Regions from separate parts of the Homo sapiens genome. Here all the other regions are reported to be linked to region 1. Evidence: microRNA targets listed by miRTarBase, many of them from high-throughput screens and not tested one by one. Region 1 holds a microRNA gene; each other region holds the end of a gene's coding sequence.

Region 1 (3,000 bases):
CCCCTGGCCCACGTCGGAAGCACTTACCTGCCTGGTTGGTGGTGATGTTCACAGAGGCGAACTGAGGCGAGAAGGGGCTCTGGTCAGTAACGCCGTTCACAGCCTGGATCTCGAAGGTGTACTGGGTGTGGGCCAGCAGGTCACTGATGTAAATGCGTGGCTCGGTCAGGCCTAGCTGGCGTGGTGCGTACTGTACATTGTCCCCGCAGCGGGTGCAGGCACCCCGGCCCGAGCCACAGCTCTTGCAGATGATGTTGTAGACGAGGTCCTCTCGGCCTCCGGAGTCGCGGGGAGGGGTCCACTCCAGCATGAGGGAGGTCTCATTGACACTGGAAATCACAGCCTGGGGCGCGGAGGGGATGGCTGGGGCGGGGGAGAGGTGTTGGTCAGTGGGGGGCTCAGGGGGTACTATTCCCCATGTGACCACTCTGTGCCCGCTGCTCTGGCTCAGCCCCTCTGAAAGGACTTCCTTAAATTCTTTGTCCTGTCTCCCCACCAGAGAAATGTTTCTAGAATACAAGTTAGCCTGCTGTACATCTGCCCAAACCTTTCTCTCCTCCCAGCTTACAAACTGCTCAGTGTTTGTTACTGAGGATAGTATTTTTGCGTTTGGAATTATACCTGCCCAGTATCTATTTTCTCCTTCTTCCTTAGAACAGCCCAGCTTTATTCATGGTGGCAATATGTCCAGCTAAAAGATGGCATTTCCCAGCCTCCTGTGTTTAAGTGCTTGCCACTGATATAGAGCAGAAGTTGTTGACTAGGGCTGTTTCTTTAAAAAGAGACAGACAGCTATGGCGTGTCCCTTTGTCCTTTCCCTGCTTCTGCTGCCTAAAATGTGGGTGATGGCTGGGACTTCAGCAGCTATGCTGGACTATGAAGTGACGTTAAGAACAGAAACAACAGTGGCTAACACCTGTAATCCCAGCACTTTGGGAGGCCGAGGCAGGCGGATCACCTGAGGTCAGGAGTTCAAGACCAGCCTGGCCAACATAGGAAACCCCGTCTCTACTAAAAATACAAAAAATTAGCCGGGCATGATGGCGGATGCCTGTAATCCCAGTTACTCGGGAGGCTGAGGTGGGAGAACCACTTGAACCCGGGAGGTGGAAGTTGCCATGAGCTGAGATCATGATGCCATTGCATTCCAGAGCCTGGGCGACAGAGTGAAACTCCATCTCAAAAAAAAAAAAAAAAAAAAAAAAGAACAGAAACTAGGTTGGGCGTGGTGGCTCATGCCTGTAATCCAGCACTTTGGGAGGATGCGGGAAGATTCCTTGAGCCCGGGAGTTCAAATCTAGCCTTGGCAACATAGCGAGACCCTGTCTCTACAAAAAATTAGAAAAATTAGCTGGGTGTGGTGGTGCACGCCTGTAATCCCAGGTATTCAGGAGGCTGAGGGCAGAAGGCTGAGGGCACCTGAGCCCAGGAGGTTGAGGCTGCAGTGAGCTAGGATTATGCCATTCTGAATGGCAGAAAGAGCCAGGCCCCAAAGGCCATCGTGGATTGCCCATACTGTCCCAGGACTGTCTACCTTGGGCTCCTTTTGGGTGAGAGAATAAATCCGTACAGTTTCAGCCATAGGGCTCAGCTCTGTTACTTACAGCTGAATGCCATCCCTGACAGATACAGGGGTTGTGACGCTGCGTTCTCAGGCAGTGCCTTCCTAGAGGACCTTGGGCTGTGATTCAGGCAGCTGCTGCCAGGTTAGAACACTGGGCAGCCTTTTCTGCCACATATACTACCTGTGTTGCTTCATCTCCTGCCAAGCCTCCCATCCCCTGTCCCTTTGTGAATCCAGACCTTGACTTTATCTTCCATGTGACTCAGCAGAAGGGGGTAAGGAGCCAGATGCCAGCACTGTGGTGTCTGCAAGGTGGGAGCATGGCCACCCCAGGATGCCCCTTTCTTGAGCACTTTTCCATTTCTCTTCCCACCAGGGAAAGACTGGCTGTAACCGGACGGCACCCAATCCTCACTCTGAGCTTTTCTGCAGGTAGACCTGGGACTCGGCCAGCCATCGCCCTTGAGGGGCCCTAGGACTTACTTGTGCAGGGCATGTCCAGGGGGTCCAGGTCTGCTCTGTAGTAGCCATTGCGGCAGACACAGTTGGTGGCCCCTTCAGAAGTGGTCCGGCTGTTGATGGGACAGTGGGTACAGGCCTCATCCCCTTGGTTGGCCTTGAAAGTCCCAGATGGACAACCTGAGAGAGAAGACAAGGAGAGTCACCAGGAAACTGGATGAAGACTCAGAGAGGTCACGAGCCACGCAGCCTCACGGAGGGGCCACACAGCCTCGCGGAGGGGCCATGCAGCACCACTGCTGGAAAATCTCATCTCTTGAAGGGTTTGAAGTCTCCAGGCCCCAACGTGGGAGTTCTAATTCTGTCAGGGCTCCCTAGTTTCTTGTCCGTGAGCTGTCTAGGGCTCCCAGCAATCTTCCCTCACCTATCCCAGCTTGGCTGTGTCATGGTCTCTAGAATCAATCCTGACCTAGTTAGGAGGCACATCTGAAGATGTCTGGGGCAGTGTGCATGGGTCCTGGTCTTGCTTAATAATGTCTGGCTGGGCCCTGATTCTTAGAACTAGATCCTTGGGTTACAGACAATTAAGATGATTATACGGCAGAAGAAAAGTCCTAGGGCAGTGTAGAGAGGTGATGTGGTAGAATAGAGGAGGACACTACTTTTGGAATAAGACCGACCTGGCTTTGAGTACTGGCTAGGCCTTTTACTAGCTGTGCAGCCCCAGACAAGCTGCTTAACTACTCAGACTCAGTTTTCTTATTTGTAAAATTAGGATTCTAAGGCCCATCTCTGCAGGGTCATTGTGAGTATTCTGCTTAAGCGTAAGGCCCATGGCACAAGGCCTTGCACAGTATAGGTGCCCAATGAATATGTGATCAATTTATTAAAATATTAATAAAAGGCGGGCCTGCAGTACCAGGGCCAGCCTAAGGAGGGCACTGCTTGCACTCGGCCCTCATTTGGCTTCTCCCATG
Region 2 (3,351 bases), not on the chromosome of region 1:
GCGGCGGCCTACCCTATTTCTCCCAGATAAGTCCTAATCCTTTTGTGGTTCTCAATTTAAAGCTTCTGGGAAGACTTCCCTGGCTTCTCCACTTCCAGCTGAAGTTAGATGCTCCTCTGCATTCTCAGCATCTTGTACTTCCCCCATCTTAGCACTTGACACTCATGGTAGCCACAGATATTTGCAGAATGAACACATAAATGAGACATTTCAAGTGGGGACAAGCATGGGGAAATAGACATCTCCCACCTCACCTGTGTCCATTTCCTCTCCTTTCTCTTGCAGCAAGTCAAAACCGTGAGATTTCAGAATTACAGCCCTCCTCCCACCAAACATTACACCTCCCATCCCACCTCCGGAAAGCCTGAACAGCCAGCCACCCTCAAGGCGTCCCAGCCTGAAGCAGCGTCCTTGGGCCCAGAGATGACCGTCCTATTTGCCCACCGAAGTGGCTGCCACTCCGGACAGCAGACAGACCTCCGGAGAAAGTCAGCTCTTGGCAAGGCCACAACCCTGGTGTCCACTGCCTCAGGCACGCAGACCGTGTTTCCCAGCAAATGAACCTACGGGTGGCTTTTCCTAGACCCCAAAGAGGTGAATTGCATTTAAATACAGTCTGCCTCCACTGAGGGCATCCTGCCATTCTTTGGGGACTTGAGCATGGGTCCTTGTTCTTCCTATTTCACCTCCAGGAAAGCAAAAGTGGGAGCAGAAATTCCTGCCCTGGGTGGGAGGATAGATGGCGTGGCCTTCCAAACATACAAACATAATGATTTGATGCCACAAAGCTCGCTTACTCAGACCAAGGAGTGAAAAATTGTCGTGCCCACTTTATGCCCCAGCATGGAGTATGTGGCCTCTTGTCATCCCCGTGTTACTGTGTAGAATTTCTATGGTGTCCTAAAGGGGGCTGCAGCAGGGGTGTGACAACGGTGGGATTGTTGGCGTTGCTTCTTTGACCTTACAATATCCTCAACAAGCATTAGAACAACTTCTGCCATCTTCTGGGGCCTGTACACTGGCCACTAGTAGCTGCCATATCTTTTTCCCTCTGTAAAGTCATAATCCTGGCTGCAAAGGGAGGATTTCTGCGCGGGGTGTGAGGTGGATACTTTGAACATTCTGAGAACCCAATAAAACTAGAAGGAGCCAGCTTCCTGAGTATGCTCCACTTAAGAAGGTCAGAGAGATCACTGAGTACCAAATATCAAAGGATTATCATACTTTAAGCTTCTCGATCCATTTTCCCACATATAATCCTATGCAATAGATAAGCAGAAAGCATGTGGCTGTGGATAGGGCCATGTATGGCATTATGGACAATTAATTCATCCTGGCTCTACAGTCTGACTTCAAGAAAACACAGCGTGCTTACAAACAATCTTATATGGGGTTAGGGTTTAGATATATAGTCTGACTTCAAGAAAGCACAACGTGGGCCAGGTGCAGTGGCTCATGCCTATAATCCTGGCACTTTGGTAGGCCGAGGTGGGCAGACCACTTGAGGTCAGGAGTTTGAGACCAGCCTGGCCAACATGATCAAACCCCATCTCTACTAAAAATACAAAAATTAGCCAGGCATGATGGCGCACACCTGTAATCCCAGCTACTCTTGAGGCCGAGGCATGAAAATAGCTTGAACCCGGGAGGCGGAGATTACAGTGAACCAAGATTGCACCACTGCACTCCAGCCTGGGTGACAGAGTGAGATTCTGTCTAAAAAAAGAAAAAAGAAAAAAAGAAAGCACAACATGCTAAAAAACAACTTTATATGGGGTTGGGGTTAGGATCTATATTTGGATATATATTGTTTGCATTGCAATATTCCTGACTTTCCCTGCTTTCTTCTCACTTGGGGCAGATGAGCTATTTCACTCACAAGGCAACAACACCAGTGCGAACATGGCAGCCCGAGGCTGGGGTGGGAGTGCTTCCTAGGGGAAAGCTGCTATAAAAAGGGTAGGACAAAGAAGGCTGGAGGAGAAAACAGGGGAGAGGAGAAGGAGAAAGAGGAGGGGTTAAAGAAAATGTGGAGGAAAGAAAGTAGGCATAAGAGTAAGAGTGAAAGAGGATTGAGGGAAAGCACAGGAAGAGGCTAAAGGAGACAAGGGGTGGGGCAACCTTACATTCCCTGACAGGGTGAGGAAAGAAGGACAGAGCCTGCGATGAAGAATGGGGCAAAATTAGATGACCCCACTAAGATGGAACTGACGTGAGCAGGACCAGCCAGGGAGAGCCTTGTAATCAGGGTAGAGGAGGCATCCCAGGAAGCCAAGGCAATGCTGTGAGACAACCCATTAATTCTCATTAAACTTAATTGTTGTGATTTAACATTTATTGCATGCCCATCAATGTGGGCACTTTAACGCAGAAATAACATTTGCTACTAAGGCTGGGTGCCATAGAAAGAAAGAAAAAGAAAGGAAGGAGGGAAGGAAGGAAGGGGGAGAGAGAGAGAGAGAGAGAGAGAGAGAGGGAGAGAGAGAGAGGAGAGAGAGAGAGAAAGAAAGAGAGAGAGAGAAAGAGAAAGAAAGAAAGAAAGAAAGAAAGAAAGAAAGAAAGAAAGAAAGAAAGAAAGAAAGAAAGAAAGGAAGGAAGGAAGGAAGGAAGGAAGGAAGGAAGGAAGGAAGGAAGGAAAGGAAGGAAGGAAGGAAGGAAGGAAGGAAGGAAAGAAAGAAAGAAAGAAAGAAAGAAAGAAAGAAAGAAAGAAAGAAAGAAAGAAAGAGAAAGAAAAAGAAAAAGATGCAGGGAGGGAGGGAGGAAGGGGCATGTCTAATTAGACCTTTCCCCTAGATAGTTCTTGAAAGTCCTGGGATTCAAAACATGTATCTTTTACACACCCACTCACACACTCGGCAAACAGAATTGTCCACAGACTTTTTCCAGACCTTAATAAAACAAAACAAAACCATACTCCTCCCATAAAATACTGCCATTGTGTCAGACCTTTGGGGCTGGTAGAGCCAACATGACAGCACGTTGTTCTAGCTATCTCAATCACGTTTGGGTCCACATCTCACAAACTTTGGGTCAATATCTGATGTTTGTGGACCCAAACAAACATGAGATATTGACCCATTAGGTCCACAAAATCAACATGCCCAAATCCATGCCTCATTGAACTAAATATAATAATCCAGATGGAGAAATGAGATAAAGTCCCAAGGACAGGGAGGCATTGTGTGATTTGTCAAAATATAAGTACCTATACCTCATCTTTACCCAAAAAGCACTCTCAATGAGTTTAGCAATGTTTAGCAGTCTACTCTACACTCAGAGTGGCACAGATATGGCATGACTGGCCGACCAAATATTTAGTCTATCCCTCAGTGGCAATGTATCCAGTTAATT
Region 3 (3,351 bases), not on the chromosome of region 1:
CACATGCCACCACACCCGGCAAATTTTCGTGTTTTTAGTAGAGATAGGGCTTCGCCATGTTGGCCAGGCTGGTCTTGAACTCCTGACCTCAGGTGATCCACCCACCTCGGCTTCCCAAAGTGTTGGGATTATAGGCGTGAGCCACCATGCCAGGCCTTTTTCTCATATAAGGTACTTATACTGTACCAAATGGTAAACAGAAAACTGTTTACTTACCATTGTGTTACAACTGCCTATGCTAACAAGCTGTACAGGTTTGTAGTCTAGGAACAATACACTACACCATATAGGTGTATAGTCGGCTACACCACCTAGGTTTGTGGAAGTACACTCTGTTTGCATGATGAAACCGCCTAACCATGCACTTCTCAGAATAGGTCCCTGCTGTTACTGTGCTGATCCATGCTGCCGACAAGGATAAACCCTGAAAACATTAAGCTAAATGAATGCATCACTAAAGGCCACATATTTTGATCTCATTTATACAACATGTCCAAAATAGGCAAATATTTAGAAGCAGAATTAGCCATTAGTGATTACACCAGGAGTTGAGGAGAGAATGGAACAGAAAGTGACTTAATGGATAGAGGGTTTCTTCTTTGATGAAAATGTTCTGAAATTAGTGGAGATGGCTGAATATACTGAAATCAACTGAATTGTGGCAAATTTTTTAAAGTGGTAAATTTTATGGTATGTAAATCATATCTGGAATAAAGCTGTTACAAAAAATTATCTGTGCTGGTGACACTGTATGGTTGGTTCTCTCGACAGGTGCTCTACAAACTAGAGCAAGGAGACCAAGTGAAATAACACACCTTAACAGAAACTCTCTTCCAGTAGTTTTCTTGCCTACAGTCAAAACACCTGGGTAGAAATGAAAGACAGACTACACTGAACAACTGTTTTATAAACCTTTATTGGAAAGGCTACAAACTTTATATTGCCACCACATTTCTTATGTTTAAAGTGGTTGTGGGGAAGTAACCTTGGATACAAAACTACTATGCTGTTGAATCTTACCCAGGCTTGTTGTAAAATATTTTTTGTACAATGGAGGTAGAGTGGATAGGTCAATAATTTAAACCTCACAGGACTTGATTAGTGTCAGCACACCTTTTTTCATTCAGGTTTTCAGGTTCTAGCAGACCTAGAAATAAACTACAAATACTAGATTTAGGCTCAGGGATGGCATTTAATACATTTAAAATTTTTAGTTTTCAGTTTTCCCCATTTGTTCCTTTATAAATGTAAAATTGTGCATCTGATGTCTCTTTCCTCAAATAAGTGTGTTCTAAAAATACCTACTGAGTGAAATGGTAAAAACCAGATGATGGAAAGAGAAACACAACATCCGTTTCATCAATTTTACCTGATTTTTCTCAAACCAGCCTTTTTTTTTTGCTTATTTTTAGTTTGAAATATAAATAACTACAACAATGCATATTTCAGTTGCCTTCATTCTTAAATTCTGAATAAGCATCTTACTTTTCTATAAAACATTACAGAAACTCAAAATAATAATCAATGGCTTCTCCAATTCCAAATATTCAACTTAATGGAGACAGCATCTTTTACATTTAATGAAAACAGAGGATTTGAACACGTTCTATGCAGACATGGTTTTACTATAGATTTGCTGTTACCTTATTTTTTTAAGGGGGTGGTGGTAGGGAGATACAGAAGTCAGGCTAGCCCAGTGCTTGGGAGTTACAGCACTCAAGACACCCTGGCCTCTACAGAGCATCACTGAAGCCACTGAAGACTGTCTCTACCAGCCTTTTGTCTTCCAAGACTATAAGATGGGCATAGGCCTGAGATATAAGCTTCAGGCCAATGGGTTTTTATGGGCTGTTTAAGAACCAGTACTAAGGATACATTCTTTTATGTTTTTCCTTCTAAAAATGTGACACAAAAGAATAATTTACACCAACCGCTTTTTATTATCGAGTTTCAGAAACCTTTCACAAGATGGTAAAAAAAAAAAAAAAGAAAAAAGAAAAAAAAAACAAAACCAAAAACAAAAAAACTTTACAACCACAGCTAATGTAATTTTTTCCATTGTTCCCAGTCAGCTCCAAACCCATTGTGTGCAAAGCCCATTTTTTTCCATGCATCTAAATGATAGATACAGGCTATGAAATTCTTTATTCTATTTGTAGCAGCTTATGCAGGTGCAGCCAAACACAAAGCTTCAGGACAAATTGTACAAACTTTACAATGTGGGATTTAAATTTAAAATATGAAACATAAAAATCTACACAAAACTGATAAAAATCAAGCACAGATACCAGGATTGAAACTTATAATAATCCATGTGTGAAAGGGAGTCTTGTTTCCTTTCAAGTGCTTTATTCTGCTATGGAACAGTCAAAATGAAGATGTAAAGCTTTGTGGTTAGTTTAAATTATACACTCTGTAGATACTATACCAATTTTAAAAGTTATACATAGACCAACAGATGTCCCTCAGTTCATCTGGATTGATAAGACACTCCAGCTGGATTGCTGAGAACAAATCAGGCAAATGTGGAAAGAAAATCCACCTGTGCAATTTGTTTGCAGAGTTTACTGATGGGCACACTGCACTCCAGGTCCATGATGGCTGCTGCTTTCTTCATCAGAGCTATCATTATAGGCTTCACGCCTCTGACCACCTCCTGAGCCTCGAGTGCTATCAAATTCCTGAAGCTCTACCTCCTCTGTTTCTCCAATTATGTTAGGAACTTCCGGTCTAGATGGCAGAAGATCTTCTAGTTCCTTTATTAAAACAAACAAAAACCAGGTTGGTTGTAATATTTTCATCAACTTTCCTTTTGATACATAGAATCCAGTGTCTGTTTAAGAGTTTAAAAAGGGGCTGGGTGTGGTGGTTCATGCTTATAATCCCACCCAGCACTTTGGAAGGCTGAGGCGGGCGGATAATGAGGTCAGGAGATGAGACCAGCCTGGACAACATGGTGAAGCCTTGTCTCTACTAAAAATACAAAAAATTAGCCAGGCATGGTGGTGGGTACCTGTAATCCTAGCTAGTCAGAAGGCTGAGGCAGGAGAATCGCTTGAACCTGGGAGGTGGAAGTTGCAGTAAGCTGAGATTGTGCCACTGCACTCCAGCCTGGGTGACAGAGCAAGACTCCATCTCAAAAAAAAAAAAGTTAAAAAAAGGAATGTGGACTGGACTTTGAACTCTAAGTAAAAGATCACAAACTCATCACTCACAGGCCAAATTCTGCAGACATCTTTTGTGCAACCCATCTATTGCTTTAAGAACCAAAAAAAAGGTCATTATCTGCCAATACTTAAACATTAGAAAGTTTCTACAGGAGACACACCTTCCTGCATCCGGCATGGACAC

What was found. The annotated mature microRNA hsa-miR-4253 reads AGGGCAUGUCCAGGGGGU and lies in region 1 at 2,054-2,071, shown strand. An mRNA with a match to its seed (bases 2 to 7 or 8) in the 3' UTR can be bound and repressed. Matches are read on the target gene's strand: a 7mer-m8 pairs with bases 2 to 8, a 7mer-A1 pairs with bases 2 to 7 and ends in A, and an 8mer does both.
Region 2: the mRNA of SH3RF2 is a reported target of hsa-miR-4253. The part of its 3' UTR that is shown has no 7-base or 8-base seed match.
Region 3: the mRNA of DNAJA2 is a reported target of hsa-miR-4253. Seed matches in the 3' UTR shown: 7mer-A1 at 1,801-1,807.

The regions. Positions count from the first base shown.
Region 1 is chr1:22,862,240-22,865,239 of GRCh38, reverse strand. MIR4253 (microRNA 4253) reads left to right here and starts at 2,014; the gene lies at 2,014-2,081. EPHB2 (EPH receptor B2) reads right to left here. Exons shown (of 16, transcript NM_017449.5): 4 at 2,048-2,203; 5 at 28-363. RefSeq lists a silencer at 1-215.
Region 2 is chr5:146,062,141-146,065,491 of GRCh38, forward strand. SH3RF2 (SH3 domain containing ring finger 2) reads left to right here. Exons shown (of 10, transcript NM_152550.4): 10 at 286-1,152. The coding sequence ends at 561. The region is part of intron 1 of LOC107986458 (a long non-coding RNA gene); the gene reads right to left. Among named protein-coding and RNA genes, the nearest start is that of PLAC8L1, 42 kb to the right of the region's middle.
Region 3 is chr16:46,954,465-46,957,815 of GRCh38, forward strand. DNAJA2 (DnaJ heat shock protein family (Hsp40) member A2) reads right to left here. Exons shown (of 9, transcript NM_005880.4): 9 at 898-2,756. The coding sequence ends at 2,565. Among named protein-coding and RNA genes, the nearest start is that of DNAJA2, 18 kb to the right of the region's middle.